3 separate regions of the Homo sapiens genome follow, and all the other regions are linked to region 3. Evidence: fine-mapped expression QTL. A gene starts in region 3. Each other region holds a variant in brackets. All regions are shown on one strand. Distances are from middle to middle. Region 1 overlaps THADA (THADA armadillo repeat containing). Region 2 overlaps LOC107985876. Region 3 holds the start of LINC01819 (long intergenic non-protein coding RNA 1819).

Region 1 (5,984 bases), 330 kb before region 3:
TTCCAGGCCTGTGGTAATGGCACATATAAGAGCATATTAATTATTCAAGTAGGAAAGGACCGTTATCTAAACTCTAAACAATTCTAAACAATTTATAATTTTGCCAAAGGCATTTGCAGACTCCTCCACAGGTAGCTCAGAGGAGATGCTATTGTTTATCCCAACTCCCCACAGCCGCCTTCTCTTTCCACGATATTGTGCCACTCCCGGGGCTATGTTCTGCCCAAGAATAGGTCGTGTTGAGTCATAGAATTTTAAACCTGTGGGTGGCCTGTGAGCCGTGTACTCCATGAATGGGAAAACAGACCTGAGGAGGTGACCTGAATTTTTTGAGGCTGAGGACCGTGCCTTACTCACCACTTAAAACTCCCAGTGTCTGACACTGGCTCCAGCACATAGTAGGGGCTCTTGAAATGTTGGCTGCATATGAAGTCACACAGTCATTTAGGAGCCAGACCCCATGAATCTTAATTCCCTGGACAAACTCATTCTAGGCCACCCTACTTTCTAGTCATCTCACATAAAGAAACAGATTTTGTTTGCCTCAGAGTAGTGATGGGTAGAGATAAGTGTGTTGTAATGTATCTAGGTTGCCAGAGCCTCTGCGAAGCCCTTCTGAATGTCAGTCATTACTGACATTTGACTTAATTCGAGTGTGGTATTTGGGGCTCAGAAACCTAGTAAGAGTCTTTGCTGTTGATTCCAAGCAGGTGTTAAGTGTTTTGCTTCTAAGTGAGACAGAAATAGGCTTCATTCATTTAACATGTGGCCTTCAGTAACTGAGACGGAATGTTTAGAATACAGATCTTTATCGTTGTCTGAGGGCATCCTAGTAAATCTCTAACATCACATGTAGTTTGGGAAAGGGACATTGCTTCTGTGTATTTTCAGCTATAGAATTAAAGAAAGTTTTGAAAATGACTTAAGCCAAATGGAGACCATTTTTTGAAGAGCAGATGGTTCTCTGTTTTAAAAATGTTGGCTCAATTGTCTTAGGTGTTTGTAGAAAACAAATAATCATAAAGAGGGTATTACTTCAGGAGTGCATACAGCAGAGTGTCCTTGTGTCTTGACTGTCTGAATGTAGTAAGACAGGGGAAGCCATGTACATTCTGAACTGTATCTTTATATACACCTAATAAAATAGAAGAGAGCATTACTGGTTATGTGTAGAATCCTTGGAGAGGCCAGAGAGGAGGGATGTTCTGTTTTCTACAGGTACAACTTTAACCATGCTGTAAATATTGGCTCTGAGGGTTTCACAATGTTTATCTGGCTTCAGGGGCCCCTTTTAGTCTGAAACAGCTTGCAGGTGGGTGGTGTTTCTTGTGTTGGGTTGTGAACACTGACACTGATTTCACGAAATTCTCTTGCAAAATGCTTTTGCATGTTTGTGCTTTGTTTTATTCCTTTTCTTGGAGACCTTCATAGTGCAGGCCCTGGGCTGATTTTCCTTTGCTGTCTTAACACTGTCAGCAGTTCTGTAACAAGATTAAAGGGATACCTCAGTTTTCAAAAATAGAAGTTCAGGAGGTTTACTGCCCAGCAGAGGAAAGTCAGAATAACCAGCGTTATATTCTTTTGGCCTACAGATTTTTCAGTTTCCTAAAATTGTGACCTTGTATTTAGAAAAAGAAAACATTTACAAAATTTTCCTCTGTGTAAAATTATTTTGAAGTGCATGCTAGCTTCACTTTAACGCTACTCTTTTGGAAAGAATTTTGTGTAAGGTGCATTCATCTTAGATGTCATCCAGTAATTGAAAAGCTAAGAAGCTACAATGATGAAGTATAAATCAGACAGGGACCCCAAGTATACTTATCATTTTAAAATTAAGAAGAATAGAGAGAAAATACTGTGTTATATTATACTTACTTCATTCCTACTTGGTATACAGTTTGTGATCTTGCAGTGTTTATTGCTCCATTGATAGTTTCATTGACAAACTGGATTATGTGGTGGCTAGAGGATGATATAATAGAAAGAAGTTTTGGATCCAGGCAGACAGTCCTGGACTTGATATTCTCTTTCCCCATTTTCTAGATACTTGCTAGGGCAAGTCACTTAAACTCTGAACTGAAGCTTACCCATCTGCAAAATAATAACGCATAATTGGCAACGATGCTGTAAGGAATAGAGATGTTACATGTACAAATTCCCAGTATAGTGGCTGGCATGATATAGTTTCTTAATAAATGGTAACTATCATTTGCATAGTTTTTCTGGTTTTTTTTTTCTTTTTGGTCCACGACCATTTATTAGAAAATAAATCTTACCTCCCCAGACTGAAAGCTGTCTTTGTCATACACTGAGTTTCAGTATATAGTTGCTCTTATTTTCCAGATTTTTGGTCTTTTCCTTTGAACAATTTGTTTATTCATACACCAGTTGCTCATAGTAGCTTTACAATATGTGTTTTACAATTTGGTGTAGACTAATTCCCCTTCAGTATTATTTTTTCAATATTTTATGAACTTTAAATCAATTTGTATAGTCGCCTACCTTTTATTGTCATTTTTAAAATTAGGATCACACTAAACTAATATGTTAACTTATTAACTATATATAACATATTTAATTATGTGTTATTTAGTGGTTTATGCCATTCCATTTGTTTGTATCCTTATATGTCATCAACAGCATTACATTTTAAAGGTTCCTTCGTATAGAATGCATTTTAAAAATATTTCTTATTGCTGTTATCAGTGGGTACTTTTATTGGTTATATCTTTTGATAGTGCTATTTTACTTTTGAAAATGATTGACTTCTGTATATTTGCTTTGTAATAATACTATTAGTCCTCACTTCTATTGCACTAACTCTGGGTCAAACACTTAGATGCACTTACATATATTTGCTGATTGAATCCTCATAACGGTTCTAGAAAGTGAATACTATTTTACAGTGAAGAAACTGAGGCTCATATAGCTAGAAAGTGGCAGATCCAGAGTTCAGAACCTGTATTCCTAACTTCAGTACCATACTGTACCGTGTCACCTAACTCTCATTTGCTGTATTATTTGTAAAGATCTTTTGTGCACTAATATGTTTTCCGTTGATTCTCTTGGGCTTTCCCCAAGAATATTACATGTTTTTGATTGGGCTGAATATTATAAAGATGTCAGTTTTCTCCAAACATAGGCTTAATGCATGTCCAATAAAAATTTTAACTTTTTAAACTTTCACTTGATAGTGTAATTCCAAAATTCCAAAATTGATGTGCAACAATAAATAGTAAGGATCAATGAAATGTTTTTTGATTGAGATTGTGTTGCATCTGTCAAGCAATTTGGGGAAAACTGACATTGTTAAAGTATAATTTCATAAAGGTAAAATCACTCTCAGGCAAATATAAAATGAACATGCATGTAAGATTTTATTTAACTCATTAATTAATAAGGGAACTAGAAAGATGTTGTGATCAATA[C/T]AAAGAACATCTGTTGGTAATATTAGAAATGAGTTTTCCTGGTGTATTCCAATAGAGAGTTTAAATACTTATTAGACTTGGGCAGGCTCATTGGCTCATGCCTGTAATCCTAGCACTTTGGGAGGCCGAGGTGGACAGATCACATGAGGCCAAGGAGTTCGAGACCAGCCTGGCCAACATGGTGAAACCCCATCTCTACTAAAAATACAAAAATTAGCCAGGCCTGATGGTGTGCACCTGTAATCCCAGCTACTTGGGAGGCTGAGGTAGGAGAATCGCTTGAACCCGGGAGGTGGAGGTTGCAGTGAGCCAAAATCGTGCCACTGTACTCCAAGCCTGGGAGACAGAGTGAGACCCTGTCTCAAAAAAAAAAAAGTTAACAACTGAGATTTATTACAAGCTATTAATTTTTTTCCTTAAGAGAACCTAGTCATGTACTAACACAAATTATTTTAGACAGAAAATAGAAATTATTGGATGCCAATAATAACTTGCATCAAGAGAATAAGCAGTTCTAGTAGTCTTTTAAAGTTGACAGTTTTCATAGAGATAGTGAAAATGTTGGGCTTTTTGTTTTAATTCTTGAACATCATTTATGATTTAAACTGTGTGTTATATATTGTATTTTAAATAAACATGTAAACTTGTCATTATTTTGTACACTCCCCTAACATTTAACCTTAAACACCCAATACATGTTTGTTAAATGAATGAATAAGAGTAATGCTGTTTTTGAGTAATTCAAAGGGTGTGATGGTGATAGTATTTTCTTTTCTTTTTTTCCTCTTTGTTTTCCTATTGGTAGCATTAGAAATAAGTTTTTTGGGGGGGTATTCCAATGGAGAGTTTAAATACTTACTAGACTTGGCTGGGCGTGGTGGCTCATGCCTGTAATCCCTGCACTTTGGGCAGATCACTTGAGGCCAGGAGTCCAAGAGCAGCCTGGCTAACATAGTGAAACCTCGTCTCTACTAAAGATACAAAAAATTAGCGAAGGTGTGGTGGCGCACACCTGTAACCCCAGCTACTGCGGAGATTGAGACCGCGCCACTGCACTGTAGCCTAAGTGACAGAGTGAGAATCTGTCTCAAAAAATAAATAAATACTTATTAGACTAATGCTCTACACTTGTCACAATGGAAGTCGAGCCACTTTGAAATGCAGTTTATATGGCCTGTTTCCTTTTTGGTGACATGAAACAGGCATGCTGCATAGCAGAACAAGAAAACTCATGTTGTAGAAACCCCCTCTGTTGGCTGTGTTGAGTGGGTGGGGATTTGAGGACCTTCACACTCTGCAATGCAAAGTTCCCAGAGGGGTTAGAAACTCCTGACCCTAGAACTCCAAGTTTAATGGCCACTTCACCTGTCACTTCATCATTAAAAAAGAGTGAGATTTTTCTAGAATAAAGAAGAAATCTCATTAATTTGAATTTCACTATTTTAGGGTTTTGTTTTATTTGTGTAATTCTGACACATGTACTACAAAAATGTACCTTCCTCCGTGATGTTTATTATTAATGTGTCCTCTGAATGTATCAGGTTCAGAACAGAAACAGTACTTGTGTGTTTTAGTTCACATTACTCATCATATTTAAGTAATAAAACTAGCAGCTCTTTAAAACTTATTTTTTGTTTGAATAGATTTCTCGTGTGTTCAGATTAGTCTTTTCCCAGTTAGTTTGTTGTATGCACGTTCTTAGACATTTGCCACTGATGTTTAAAAATTGTTTAGCTGACCACACAGTCTTTGGAGACTACTAAGAAAGAAGTTTATATTGTGAGGAGGTGACAACAGGCAGCCCAAAGATGGGAGAATATGTTTGGATGAATGATGACAAAAACTCAACGCCCAGGAACGAGTTATCCCAACCATCAGAAATCCAGCATGAGGTGAATATCCTGGGGCCTGGGTTTTATAATCCATCACTGACTTGGGGAGTAGATATTTAAACAGTGGGGAAAGTTAGCACATAAACCTAGCTGCTAAAATGGCAAGTGATTTTTTTTTTTAGTGCACCAGAAAAGGGAAATAGCGGACCCTCTAAGCAATTAAGTGGCCAAATTGCGTGTGGAGGTTTGGCAAACAGACCAAAGTAATTCAGTCCATGGACAGCAAAATAGTTTTAGTTGAAGAAACTGTGAAGGTTTAATTTATTTTGTTTGCCAAGGAGTTGATGCATTCAGGGGTGAGTTAACAAAAGAATCAAAGAGTTTGAAAATCAAGTCAGTGATCTCTCCCCTTTGTGAAAAAGAAAAGAATGCATGTTTTGTTTTTTTTCTTTGTCTTTATTTTTATAAGAGCACTTTCTTACTGAATATTGTTTAACATAAAGAGACAATTTACTTGTGAAAGTTCATTCCCCTCTCAACAAAAACTGAGCATTGCTCTTTCTTATATTATGAAAAATCAGTATCTACTATTAACATTCTAATCAGTGTAGAAATTCTACCATTTAACCACCATTGCAAAAGAATGTTATAATATGTCATTAGACATATGTAAAAACTCATCAAGCTATACATTTCAGATTTGGAACTTCAAGTTGTATTGCTA
Region 2 (5,984 bases), 53 kb before region 3:
GTTCTTAGAGATACGTTGTTAAGCAGTTTTGTTATTGTGTGAACATTATCGAGTGTACTTACACAAACTTAGGATGGAATAGCTGACTATATAACTTAGACTATATGGTCTAGCCTATTGCTTGAAGGCTGCAAACCCATACTCCATGTTACTGTACTGAATAATGAAGACAAGTGTAATACGATGGCAAGTATTTGTGTATCTAAACATAGAAAAGGTACAGTAGAAATGTGGTATCGTAGTCTTATGAGAGTACTGTTGTATATGCAATGCTTTGTTGACTGAAACATCATTATGTGGTTCATGACTGTATATCATAATTTTAAAAAATATTTTAAGAGGTTGCCAATCAAGACACTACAAACTAATTTTGTGGCTTTTGTCAAAATTCATTTCTTTCTTTCTTTTTTTTTTTTTTGTTTTGAGACAGGGATCACTCAAGCAATCCTTCTGCCTTAGCCTCCCAAGTTGGTGGGACTACAGTCTTGTATGCCACCACGCTTGGCTAATTTTTTTTTTTTTTAAATTATTGAATAGAGATGGGGTCTTGCTATGTTGCCCAGGCTGATCTCAAACTTCTGGACTCAAGTGATCCTCCCTTCTTGTTCTCCCTAAGTGGGATTACAGATGTGAGCCACTGTGCCTGGCCCTGGCTAAATTTTAAATTATTTTTGTAGTGACAGGGTTTTGCTATGTTGCCCAGACTGTCTTGAACTCCTGGCCTCATGTAATCCTCCTGCCTTGGCCTCCCAAAGTAGAATTCATTTCTGTTGCTAGGTTGGCCTCTGAACAGTTTTACAGAGCTGAATGCTCTAGTCTTCTGTGACACAGTCTTTTTCTTTTTTTTTTTTTTTTTTTTGAGACGGAGTCTCACTCTGTCACCCAGGCTGGAGTGCATTCGGCTCAATCTCGGCTTACTGCAACCTCTGCCTCCTGGGTTCAAGGAATTCTCTTGCCTCAGCCTCCCGAGTAGCTGGGATTACAGGCATGCACCACCATGCCCGGCTAATTTTTGTAGTTTTAGTAGAGACGGAGTTTCATCATGTGGCCAAGTGGTCTTGAACTCCTGACCTCAAGTGATCCACCCACCTCAGCCTCCCAAAGTGCTGGGATTACAGGCATGAGCCACCATACCCGATGACACAGTCTTAATAAGGAGAAGAATATGAAGAATTTGACTTTTTATTGATGCTAAAAGCATTAATAAATAAGATCTTTGGAAAAATGTGGAAAATGGAAAATGTCACTGCCTGCTGTCTGTAGGGTGAAATGAAATGGCTAAAGAGCTATAGGAGCATTTTGTTCTCACTTGTTGGGTCAGATCAACTTCCCAGGACTTTTTGGGAAGATCACAAATCCTAGACAATCGTACTGCACTGCTCTAGGAATTCTTGGAGGGCTGGAAGTCTCACAATTAGGGCTTTTTCTCTGGGCACCAACCTGACACGCATGGCAAGGGGGCTGAGCAGTTGTCTATGGTATAGATGCTATATTCTATGACTCCTGTTGGCCCTAGCCATAGCTGATTGGTATAGAGGGTCAAAGCTGGGCCAATCAGATTATCTGTCTCAAGATTCTGGAATTCTGAACTGGGGCAGAGACAGGGAGCTGTGGGAATGTGGTTGCTTTAATGGGAATGTTCTGGTGAGGAGATGCATTGACTCCAGATGCTTACATCCTTTCCTGAGGCTCAATTGTTCAACCTTTTCTTGAAATTTAGGGCCAAACAAAAGGTCAAAACCAAAATCACTCTTAGAAATGATGCCACCGACTTTAGGATGGCACTCATATCTGTGTGAGTGGGAGAGAGAAGGGCTTGGGGCAGGGATTTGACTGTAGTTGTAATGTTTTATTCATTATTGTGAATTTTGTCATATTATTGTGATTTGTCAGGGTTGATTTCTATTACTTGTCCTATGGAGTAGGTTACTATATTTTTGTCTTCTCACCTTCCCCTGGTGCTGCTGTTAATACATATGGTATCTTTATTGAGTTAGAAAAAGATGCCTGACTCTGGGTGGACAAGCAAGAAAAAGCTGTTCTTTCCTTCAGGCGGACACAGCCTCTAACGAGGGTGGAAGGTTTGGCCAGTGGAGCACGGGCTGGGTTTCAGGCCATACTCTGCTCACTTCCTTGGCCCAGCCCTTTTGTGCATTGCACAGATGACATCCCCATTTATGGCGGCCTTACACCTGTCCACCATGTGCTTTTGGGATGATCTGTCTTCTGCAGCTAGGCATTGTTCAGAATATGAAGGGCTATTCCAGACAAGATTCACGGGACATGGACTATCATGCAAGTCCTATTCTGGACTTTAAGGCTCATGACAAAGATGTTAAAAGTCAAACCTGCTCAAAGTCAAGACTTAAAGGAAATGTAGAAAAACTCTCTGGCCTGATAAAGTCCACAGAAGCCTCATCTTCTGATGAATGATCTTCAGGCTTGAAAGGATGCCTTCCTCCAAACAGGCTGGCAGACATTCTTGAAATGTCAAAGGATAGGCCAGGGGTGGTGGCTCACGCCTGTAATCCTAGCACTTTGGGAGGCCAATGTGGGCAGATTGCCTGAGCTCAGGAGTTCAAGACCAGCCTGGGTAATGTGGTGAAACCCCATCTCTACTAAAATACAAAGAATTAGCTGGACATGGTGGTGCGCGCCTGCAGTCCCAGCTACTCGGGAGGCTGAGGCAGGAGAATCACTTGAGCCCAGGAGGCGGAGGTTGCTGTGAGCCAAGATTGCACCACTGCACTCCAGCCTGGGTGACAGAGCAAGACTCCATTTCAAAAAAAAAA[G/A]AAAAAAAAGAAAGAAAGAAAGAAATGCCAAAGGGTACTCTTCCATCCCCCTGTGAAAAAAACTAAAAAACTAGTGGTGAGAAGTTAAGAGCAAGATCACAGGAACAGATGACAAGGAGGTGTCTGAAGGCCACAATGAGAGTGACATGGAAACCAGTCAAGGCACTGATGGCCATGGGAAGAAAATGATCTCAAGGAAGAGATAATTCCTTGAGAGGAGGCTGCTCCAGCTCTGATTTGTTCATTCATTTTACAGTCAGGAAGCCACTCCACCCCAGAAGAAGGTAATATGAGTCCTACTACCTTTCTGAAAGGAAGGTGAGTACAGAAAAGCAAGACAGTAACTTTCCCAAGCCAGGGAACCCCTGTCTCCCCAACTTCTGCATCATGTAGACCATTTGTGTCTACAACTTACAGGAGGCAGTGTAGACTAGCAGTTGAGAATGTGAGTCTAGAATCAGAATGCCTGGGTTCAAACCTCAACTCTGTCACTTTCCAGCTATTTGGCCTTGGACATATTACTTAAACATTTGTGTGTTTTAAAACGTGTACACAATCCTTTGACTCTCTTTCCATCAAGAAGTGGAGCCTATGTCCCCTCCCTTTGAACCTGGGTGGAAATGTGGGAGTGCCTAGACAAATAGAATGTGGCAAAAGTGACACTGTGTGATTTCCAAGGCTAGGTTAGAAAAGACCCTGCAGCTTCTGATGATTCCTTTAGGGACACTCATGTCGGGAGGCTTCAGCTGCTGTGAAAGAAACTCAGCTACCCTGAGGCTGCCTTGTAGAGGGACTGCATTTAAAGTGAGAGATTCCTGAGGAGTTCCAGCCATCCAGCCCCAAGCAGTGTGAACCTCCTAGTCTAGACCCCAGCATTTGAGCTGACCTCAGCCCCAGCCACCAATTGACTGCAAACTCATGAGACACCCTGAGTGAGAACTGCCTAGCTTAGTCTCTGTCAACCCTCAAATTTCAGGAACAAAATAAATGATTGTTGTTGTCTTAAGACCACTGTTTGGGGATGGTTTCTTATCATGCAATAGATAGCTGATGCAGACTTTTCTATAACCTAGAAACGGAATGCTGCCATCACAGAACCTAAGTCATGTGGCTTTAGGACTGGGAGATGGGTAGAGATTGTAAGGACTTTGAGGATATTGTTGATGGAAGTCTGATAGTTCTCAAGGAAGTTGCTGGTGAGGGCTTAAAGGAAAGTGAGAAATTTTTATTAGAAGCAGGAGGAAAGGGGACAAACCCTTATTACGTGGTGGAAGAAAGTTAGTAACATTGTCACTTGAAGCTATGTGAGCAATAGAAAATGTGCCTAATGAAGGCTGGGCACGGTGGCTCACACCTCTAACCCCAGCACTTTGGGAGGCCGAGGTGGGCAGATCACATGAGGTCAGGAGTTCGAGACCAGCCTGGCCAACACGGAGAAATCCTGTCCCTACTAAAAATACAAAAATTAGCTGGGCTTGGTGGCTCATGCTTGTAATCCCAGCTACTCGGGAGGCCGAAGCTGCAGAATCGCTTGAGCCCAGAGGGCAGAGGTTGCAGTGAGCTGAGACTGTGCCACTGCCCTCCAGCCTGGGTGACAGAGTAAGACTCTGTCTCAAAAAAAAAAAGAAAAAAAAGAAAAATGAAAAAGAAAATATGCCTAATGAACTAATGGTTTGGGCTAAAACAATTTTTAAGCAGACTGTTGAAAATGCTAGTTGGATTAGAAAATGCTAGTTGGATTATTTTAGCTGTATATGATAAAGACAGAGAAAGATGAGTTAAAAGGAAGCTTTAACTTTCAAGCAAAATTTATAAAACATATACAAGAGCCAGGGGCTTGCTGGATTTGAAAATAAATCTGCTTTTCATTCTCAGCCTCCCAGATGGCAAAAGATTCTCAAAGTATGAAAGGGCTTCAGGACAAAGATAAAACCCAGAGTGGGACTATAAGAACCTTTGTTAAAATCTCAGAAATATCTAAGGCTTCATAAAATATTTTGAATAGACAAAGGCCCTCTAAGTATTTCAAGAGTGTGCCTCAGTGCTCGCTTCAGCAGCACGTATACTAAAATTGGAACAATACAGAAAAGATTAGCATGGCCCCTGTGCAAGGATGACATGCAAATTCATGAAGCACTTCATATTAAAATAAAAACAAATTAAAAATAAAATGAAAAAGAGTGTGCCTCACAGATCCTCTTCATTAAACAACAGGGCTTCTAAGTATCTTAAGTAAATCGTTTTACACCAGCCTCACATTGAGAATGTAGAGAATGTTTTCTTGATGAAATGTTTGGTTATAGCTTTTGACTAACAGAGTGAGCCCCAATAGGATTCATGGGAAACCCACACAGTTTTTAATAGAATTATTTTGTCAGAAGCACCACCAGCTTGGGCAAAAAGGGTCAGAATAGTGTGAAATGAAAAAAGGCTTTTGGACCCCCAAAATTCTATGGGAAGGAAACAAGCTGAAAACTACTCAGTTGGAAACACCAGGTGTATTGGTCTGTTTTCACACTGCTGATAAAGACATACCTGAGACTGGGCAATTTACAAAAGAAAGAAGTTTAATTGGACTTACAGTTCCACATGGCTGGGGAAGCCTCACAATCATGGCAGAAGGCAACGAGGAGCAAGTCACATTTTACGTGGATGGTGGCAGGCAAAGAGAAGATGAGCTTGTGCTTCTTTTTTTAAAACCATCAGATCTCGTGAGTCTTATTCACTATCACAAGAACAGCACGGGAAAGACTTGCCCCCATGATTCAATTACCTCCCACCAGGTCCCTCCCACAACACGTGGAAATTCAAGATGAGATTTGGGTGGGACATAGCCAAACCATATCACCAGCCATTTTTTATAGAGAAAGAAGGATGATTCAGAAGGTGGAACCAAGAATCTAGAGAACAGAGCCAAAAGCCACAAAGAATCATTCCCAGGCAGTAGAACTGAGCCCTAATCAAGAAATTGGCAACACAATATGAGCCTGAATGGATTTCAGAATTGCTATGGACCAGTCATGGCTCTGTGCCTCCTCTCCCCTCTCTTGAATAAGAGTGTTTATAGTGGCTACACTATGCCTATCTCATCATTGGATGTTCAGTGTGTAAGCAGCAGATAACTTTTTTTTTTTTTTTTTTTTTGACACAGTGTTTCACTCTTGTTGCCCAGGCTGGAGTGCAATGGTGTGA
Region 3 (5,984 bases):
CAAATTCCACAGCCTGGCCCCGGCCCCGGCCCTCTGGCCTGATCAGCCCAGGTTCTCCGGTCCGGCCACTCCTCTAGACCTTATTCTGTTTTTGTTTTTTGTTTGTTTGTTTGTTTTGTTTTGTTTTTAGACAGAGTCTTGCTGTGTCACCCAGGCTGGAGTGCAGTGGCACAATCTCGGCTCACTGCAACCTCCGCTTCCCCGGTTCAAGCAATTCTCCTGCCTCAGCCTCCCAAGCAGCTGGGATTACAAGCGTGTGCCACCACGCCCGGCTAATTTTTGTATTTTTAGAAGAGACAGGGTTTTGCCATGTAGGCCAGGCTGGTCTCGAACTCCTGACCTCAGGTGATCCACCTGCCTCGGCCTCCCAAAGTGCTGGGATTACAAGCATGAGCCACCGCGACTGGCCTAGCCCTGCTTATTCTCAAATTTCCTCCCCATCCCCCTACACACCGGTTGGTTTCTACCTCTAGCCTTTTCTTATGCCATCCCCTGGGCCTGAAGCACGCTTTCCATTTCTGCACTTAGCAGTTTTTATCATCGTTTCTGGCCCAAAACAAAGTCCTCCACCTCCCAGCAGCCTGCCCTGACTGCCCTACCCCATGCCAGCCTCACCTCTCTCCTCCCTCCCCGGAGTTCCCCTCAGAGCCATGCACCCATCACTTTATGGGGTCTGACACTTCCATGCTCAGTCCCATGCAACACACAAGCTGCTGGAGGAGGGGCAGGGGCAGAATGATGGATGAGGCTGCAGCGGCTTTGCTCCCTGCCGGGGCTGTGGTTAGATCTCCCCTCCAAGAAGCCTGATATTTTCCAGGAATTTCCTGAGGGGAGGGGGCCAAGTACTCTGGAATGAAAGCCAGCTGTGGGGTTGAGGCCTGAGGGTGGGGAAGGGGGCTCTGGGCTTCCTGGCTGAGTCAGCGGACCATTCCTAGGTAATTTATGGGCTGAGTCAGAGCTGTGGCAGTGGGGCGAGGGGTGGGGTTGGGAGAGCTCCCTGGTCTCTAGGCAGTCTGTGGAGGGGAGGGCAAGAGGACTGGCTGGAAGTAAGTCTGGCTGAGTCCAACACAGACCCCCTCTCCCCATCAGCCTCCCCACTGCTTGGAGCCTGTAAAAGCAGCAGCCAAGAGACGGAACCGTGGGGGATGGATGCAAGCTGGCAAAAGGGGAGAAGCCCCTGGCAGGCACTGGGGGCTCCTGAAGACAGAGGGGCACGCTGGCAGGGAGGGGCTTGGGCCAGCCTCAGGGCTAATTTGAGGGTAAAGAGAACTGCTAATTCCAGCACCTCAGCCTGGGTGCCCCCTCCCGCCCTTTTGTAGCAGGCCTGGCCTGGGCTGAAAAGCAGATCTGGGTTCTAATCTCCCTTCTGCATGGACCTGCGGGTGACACAAGCTTGGTGCCTTCTCCTCTCTGAACTTCAAGTCCTTACTTGGACAAGATGGCCTGGCTCCTCCCAGCCCTGGATTTGGGGATGCTCCGATGCTGCCTGGGAGCCCAGTCTGATCATGGTGGCCTGGAAATCAAGGCTAAGCGAAAGGAAAGCCTGAAAGAGCTGCACTCTAAGCACCACAGCAGGACTTGCCCCTGAATGGAGATGGGGCTGGGGCAGGAAGGTGGCAGGGAGGGGCTGGGCCCTGTGACTGTCACCTCCAGGTTGGAGGAGTGGGGAGGGAAAGGCAGGGCAGGGTGCGTTATCACACACACACTCACCCACATACACTCAAGCACACACCACAGAGTCCAAGGAAAACCTGTTTCTGTCCTAGCACTGAGCCAGGGATCCCACACAAAGATGGGTCCTGGCCAAGCGCAGTGGTTCACGCCTGTAATCCCAGCACTTTGGGAGGCCAAGGTGGGAGGACAACTTGAAGTCAGGAGTTTGAGACCAGCCTGGCCGACATGGTGAAACCTTGTCTCTACTAAAAATACAAAAATTAGCCAGGCATGGCAGTGCATGCCTGTAATCCCAGCTACTCAGGAGGCTGAGTCAAAAGAATCGCTTGAACCCAGGAGGCGGACGTTGCAGTAAGCCAAGATTGAGCCACTGCACTCCAGCCTGGGTGACAGAGTGAGACTCCGTCTCACAAAAAAAAAAAAAAAAAAAGAAAAGAAAAAGAGAAAGAATGGGTCCTGATGAAGTTCCTAGGAGGCTCCCTCCTGCTGACAGAGCACAGCAGGAGTGTCCCCCTGGGCGATGGGGCCCAGCTTTCCCATGTCATTCATGGGCATCTGTTGCATCATGATATCTGTTGCAGAATCATCCCATAGTGGCTTCCAAGCAGGGCGTTGCAGCTGAGACTGGCCCTGGTCTCAGCATCTTCGGAGAGGCCCCAGATTGATAAGTGTCTTGTTCTGAGTCATGGCTCAAAGTCCCCATGACAGACAGGAATCCCTATCAGCATGGTAGATTTCATAAACCCCAAATTAGGGCATGAGATCTGAAAAAGAATCTGGGGGATTTGTGATAACATGTGAGGGCATACAAATAAGGACTCTTACTTGCTCAAGACTAACAAACTGCATGTCTTGACAAGAGTAGCCAAGATGAAATCAAATGTAGACAGGAGGGTTCTGAACACACGTGGGGTCACTGGTGTGGCTTGGCCCGGGACTACCCCTCTCCCCCTCATCACCCAAATCCACCAGAGCCTTCTAGAGGAAGCATTCTCCCCACTGGTGGCGTGGTGGGGCCAGGGCCTCGACAGGGACTGTTGTAATCATCCAGGTGGGAAATGACAGAGAGGTGGTGAGAGGCGGGTGGGCTCTGGAAGAAGTTGGAATCCTGCTGACAAGATGCTCCAGTGGTTTGGACATGGGTCTGAAAAACTCCAGGACGGCTATCCAAGGTTTCGGCCTCAGTGAATGAAGGGATGGGGTTGCCACTGACTGAGGAAGAGAATGTATTCTATTGCATATTTAATTAATTACTTTGATGTGAAAAGTCCAAATAACAACTATGTCTGGAACTGAGCAGGGCATCCGTGGGACCACCGCCCACAGGCACCCAGGGCTTATGGCACCACCCACCCCCGTCGTGGGAGGCCCCAGAGACCCCGGCAGAGAAAGAGGGAGGCTCACCCTCTTGCTGTGGTGTGTGTGGGAGGGGCAGTGTGAAAAGGTCTGGCCCACCTGAGTCCCCTGGGCTGGTAGGAGAACTGGGGCCGGGCAGGGGGTGGTGTTGGAACAGGAGGGGTGGTGTGTGAGCCTCTGTGGGCAAAGACCCACCGTGGCCCACAGAGGCTCTTTCTCCTCAGACCCGGTGTGCTGTTACCAGAGCCTTCTAGAGGAAGTGTTCTCCGAGCTGAGGGCGGCTCTTTGATTCTCCAGGCCACAAACCCCCGCAGCCCGGCCTGGCCAGAGGCGTGCCTGTGCATCCCGGCAAGTGAGCGCCCAGGGACTCTCGGCCAGAGAGGCTGTGAGGGTGGCTTTGTGAGGATGGCTTTGTGTGGCTGCACATTGCCCTTGGCCAAGCCCCGCTGCCAGGAGAGGCAGCTCGGCTGCCAAACCTCCTGAACCCAAGTTACCTGAGCAAGCAGCCCTATCCCCTCGCCTGCTTCTCACTGCCTCGCCTGCCTTGGGCCTGCCCGACCCAGGGGGTCACATGCCTTGTTCCCCATCAGTGGAGACCAGGGACAAGAAGACAGTTCTGTGGGAAGAGCCAGGAGGACCATTTGGGAAAATACAGGTTCCAGGTGTGTCTCCAGACCTTGAGAGTTGGTGTCTCCTGGGAAGAGGCCCTGATGAGATCTGGGGAGATTCGGATCTGATGAGATTCAGGAAGCCCTGGCCTCTCCGTACTTGAGGAGACGGGACACACAGGACAAGCTGCAGGCTGGTGAGCAGGTATGTTCTGCTTCTTTGAGGACAAGAGAACCCTGGATCCTTGAGGGCTCTCAAGGGGCATTTACAGGGTCTGAGCCTAAATCGAGGCATCAGGTCCCAGAGAGGGCGAGGGTGCGTGTGCTCAGACAACCCGAGGTCCCGCAGAGGCCACCAGAGCCCCCAAGGGGGGTCGGAGAGAGTCCACTTCCCGCCAGAGGTGCGATGTGGCCACATCACTGGGCACCTAGTCCTTCTTTCTGCCAGCCTCAGCCATATGATGAGCAACCAACGCCTAAAGCTTCCTGAGCTGGAGGCGGGGAGGCAGGACTGGGGAGATTGGAGCTGGAGTGGAGTGGGCCTGAGCTGGGGACGGTGGGGTTCCTGTGACCCCGCAGGGTGAATGCCTGAGCTGGTTGCTCTGGATATGTGACCTGCTCCTCCCTTCTGTAAACTCTTCACCCTGATCTGGAGAAGGTGATCCCCAAGGGCTAGGACCCACCCACCCAGAAATACACTAAATAAGTAAATGTGCTCTGTTCAGATTTTATCTAATCAGGATTCCAGAGCACAAGACAAATGGCCTCACGTCCGGCTGGGAGGTGTAATTCATTCTCCTGGGTGAGTCCAAAGCCTGGGGCAGAGTGGGGAGAGGAGGGGCGGGGTGATTTAGTGTAGTGGAACGTGCACTAAGGGTCTGGGAGGCCCTGAAGCTTGGAGTGCAGGGCCCAGCGCCAAGACCTCCAGAACAACCCAGCCTTCCTCGGGATCTGCCCAGGGATGGAAACGAACCCTAGTGTCCTTTCTTTCAGGGAGTCTATTTCTGGGACTTATTCCAGGGAATATACATAGGTGGTCATTCAAAGATTTAGCCACAAAGTTGTCCTTCACTGTGACTTCTAAGCCTGAAAAACCGGAAGCAACCTAAATGTCCAAAAATGGGGCATGGGTTAAATACATTGTGAAACATCCAGAAAACAAAACACAATTGAGCCTTTAAAAATGATGTAGAAGAGCATCTAATGACATAGAAATAAGCAGATAGCATAACGAACAGAATAATACAAAGCTGAGATGTATATAAAATAATCTGATTTTTAAATCATTGATTGGGCTGGGCGCAGTGGCTCATGCCTGTAATCCCAGTACTTTCGGAGGCCGAGGCAGGCAGATCACCTGAGGTAGGGAATTCGAGACCAGCCTGACCAATATGGAGAAACCTCATCTCTACTGAAAAATACAAAATTAGCCAGGCGTGGTGGCACATGCCTGTAATCCCAGCTACTCAGGAGGCTAAGGCAGGATAGTTGCTTGAACCCGGGAGGCGGAGGTTGCAGTGAGCCGAGATTGCACCATTGCACTCCAGCCTGGGCAATAGTGAAACTCCGTCTCAAAAAAATAAATAAATAAATAATAAAGCATTGATTTATGAAAAACGTTGGAAGGATATACAATAAAACATTGACGAGTGGTGAGCTAAGGGGTAATTTTAGATTGCTTCTTTTTCTTTGTTTTTATTTTGGTTTTCCTTATTTGAATTTTTAATTTTTTTAGCATAATCATGCACTTACACAATAGACAAATATAAGGAGAGCTATTACTTTACAAACCAGAATCTCCGAGATTTAGCTCAGGAAGAATTCCTGGGTAGGAGAGACAGCTGGCTCAGTCAGCCCTCACTCCACCTCCCTCTGTGCACTCTCCTCTTTGGGTCACTTTTCTTCATTCCCACGGCTTCTTTCTGGCTGGGCCCCAGGGATGCCACCACTTTTTTAATTCTGTGGGCCAAACATAGCTAGAAACCCAGCCTTGGTGGTTGTTTGAGACCGAGTCTCACTCTGTCACCCAGGCTGGAGTACAGTGGCGTGATCTCGGCTCACTGCAATCTCCACCTCCCAGGTTCAAACAATTCTTATGCTTCAGCCTCCTGAGTAGCTGGGATTACAGGTATGTGCCACGACACCAGGCTAATTTTTTGTATTTTTACTGGGTTGGCCAGGCTGGTCTTGAACTCCTGGCTTCAAGTGACCTGCCCATCTTGGCTTCCCAAAGTGCTGGGATTACAGGCGCGAGCCACCACACCTGGCCGAAACCCAGTCTTTCGCTTCTTTTAACAAGCACAGCTAAGAAACCTGGGAAGATCAGACCAGATGGCACTAATAAGG

What was found. PIP is the estimated chance that this variant, and not a neighbour inherited with it, causes the effect. A credible set is the group of variants that fine-mapping cannot tell apart.
Region 1: its variant is the best candidate, but not a certain one, in a credible set for the expression of LINC01819 in whole blood (INTERVAL, PIP 0.52).
Region 2: its variant is the best candidate, but not a certain one, in a credible set for the expression of LINC01819 in whole blood (TOPMed, PIP 0.51).

What each region holds. Positions count from the first base shown.
Region 1 is chr2:43,371,301-43,377,284 of GRCh38, reverse strand. The region is part of intron 29 of THADA (THADA armadillo repeat containing); the gene reads left to right. Among named protein-coding and RNA genes, the nearest start is that of LINC01126, 150 kb to the right of the region's middle. The variant C/T (reference allele first, on the strand shown) is at 3,429.
Region 2 is chr2:43,090,344-43,096,327 of GRCh38, reverse strand. All of the region lies in intron 2 of LOC107985876, which reads left to right. It also overlaps the pseudogene RNU6-242P. Among named protein-coding and RNA genes, the nearest start is that of LINC02580, 9.1 kb to the left of the region's middle. The variant G/A (reference allele first, on the strand shown) is at 2,793.
Region 3 is chr2:43,036,979-43,042,962 of GRCh38, reverse strand. It overlaps LINC01819 (long intergenic non-protein coding RNA 1819), which reads left to right and starts at 3,420. Exons shown (of 6, transcript NR_110585.1): 1 at 3,420-3,843. RefSeq lists enhancers at 1-75, 719-1,013, 76-1,017, 1,018-1,960.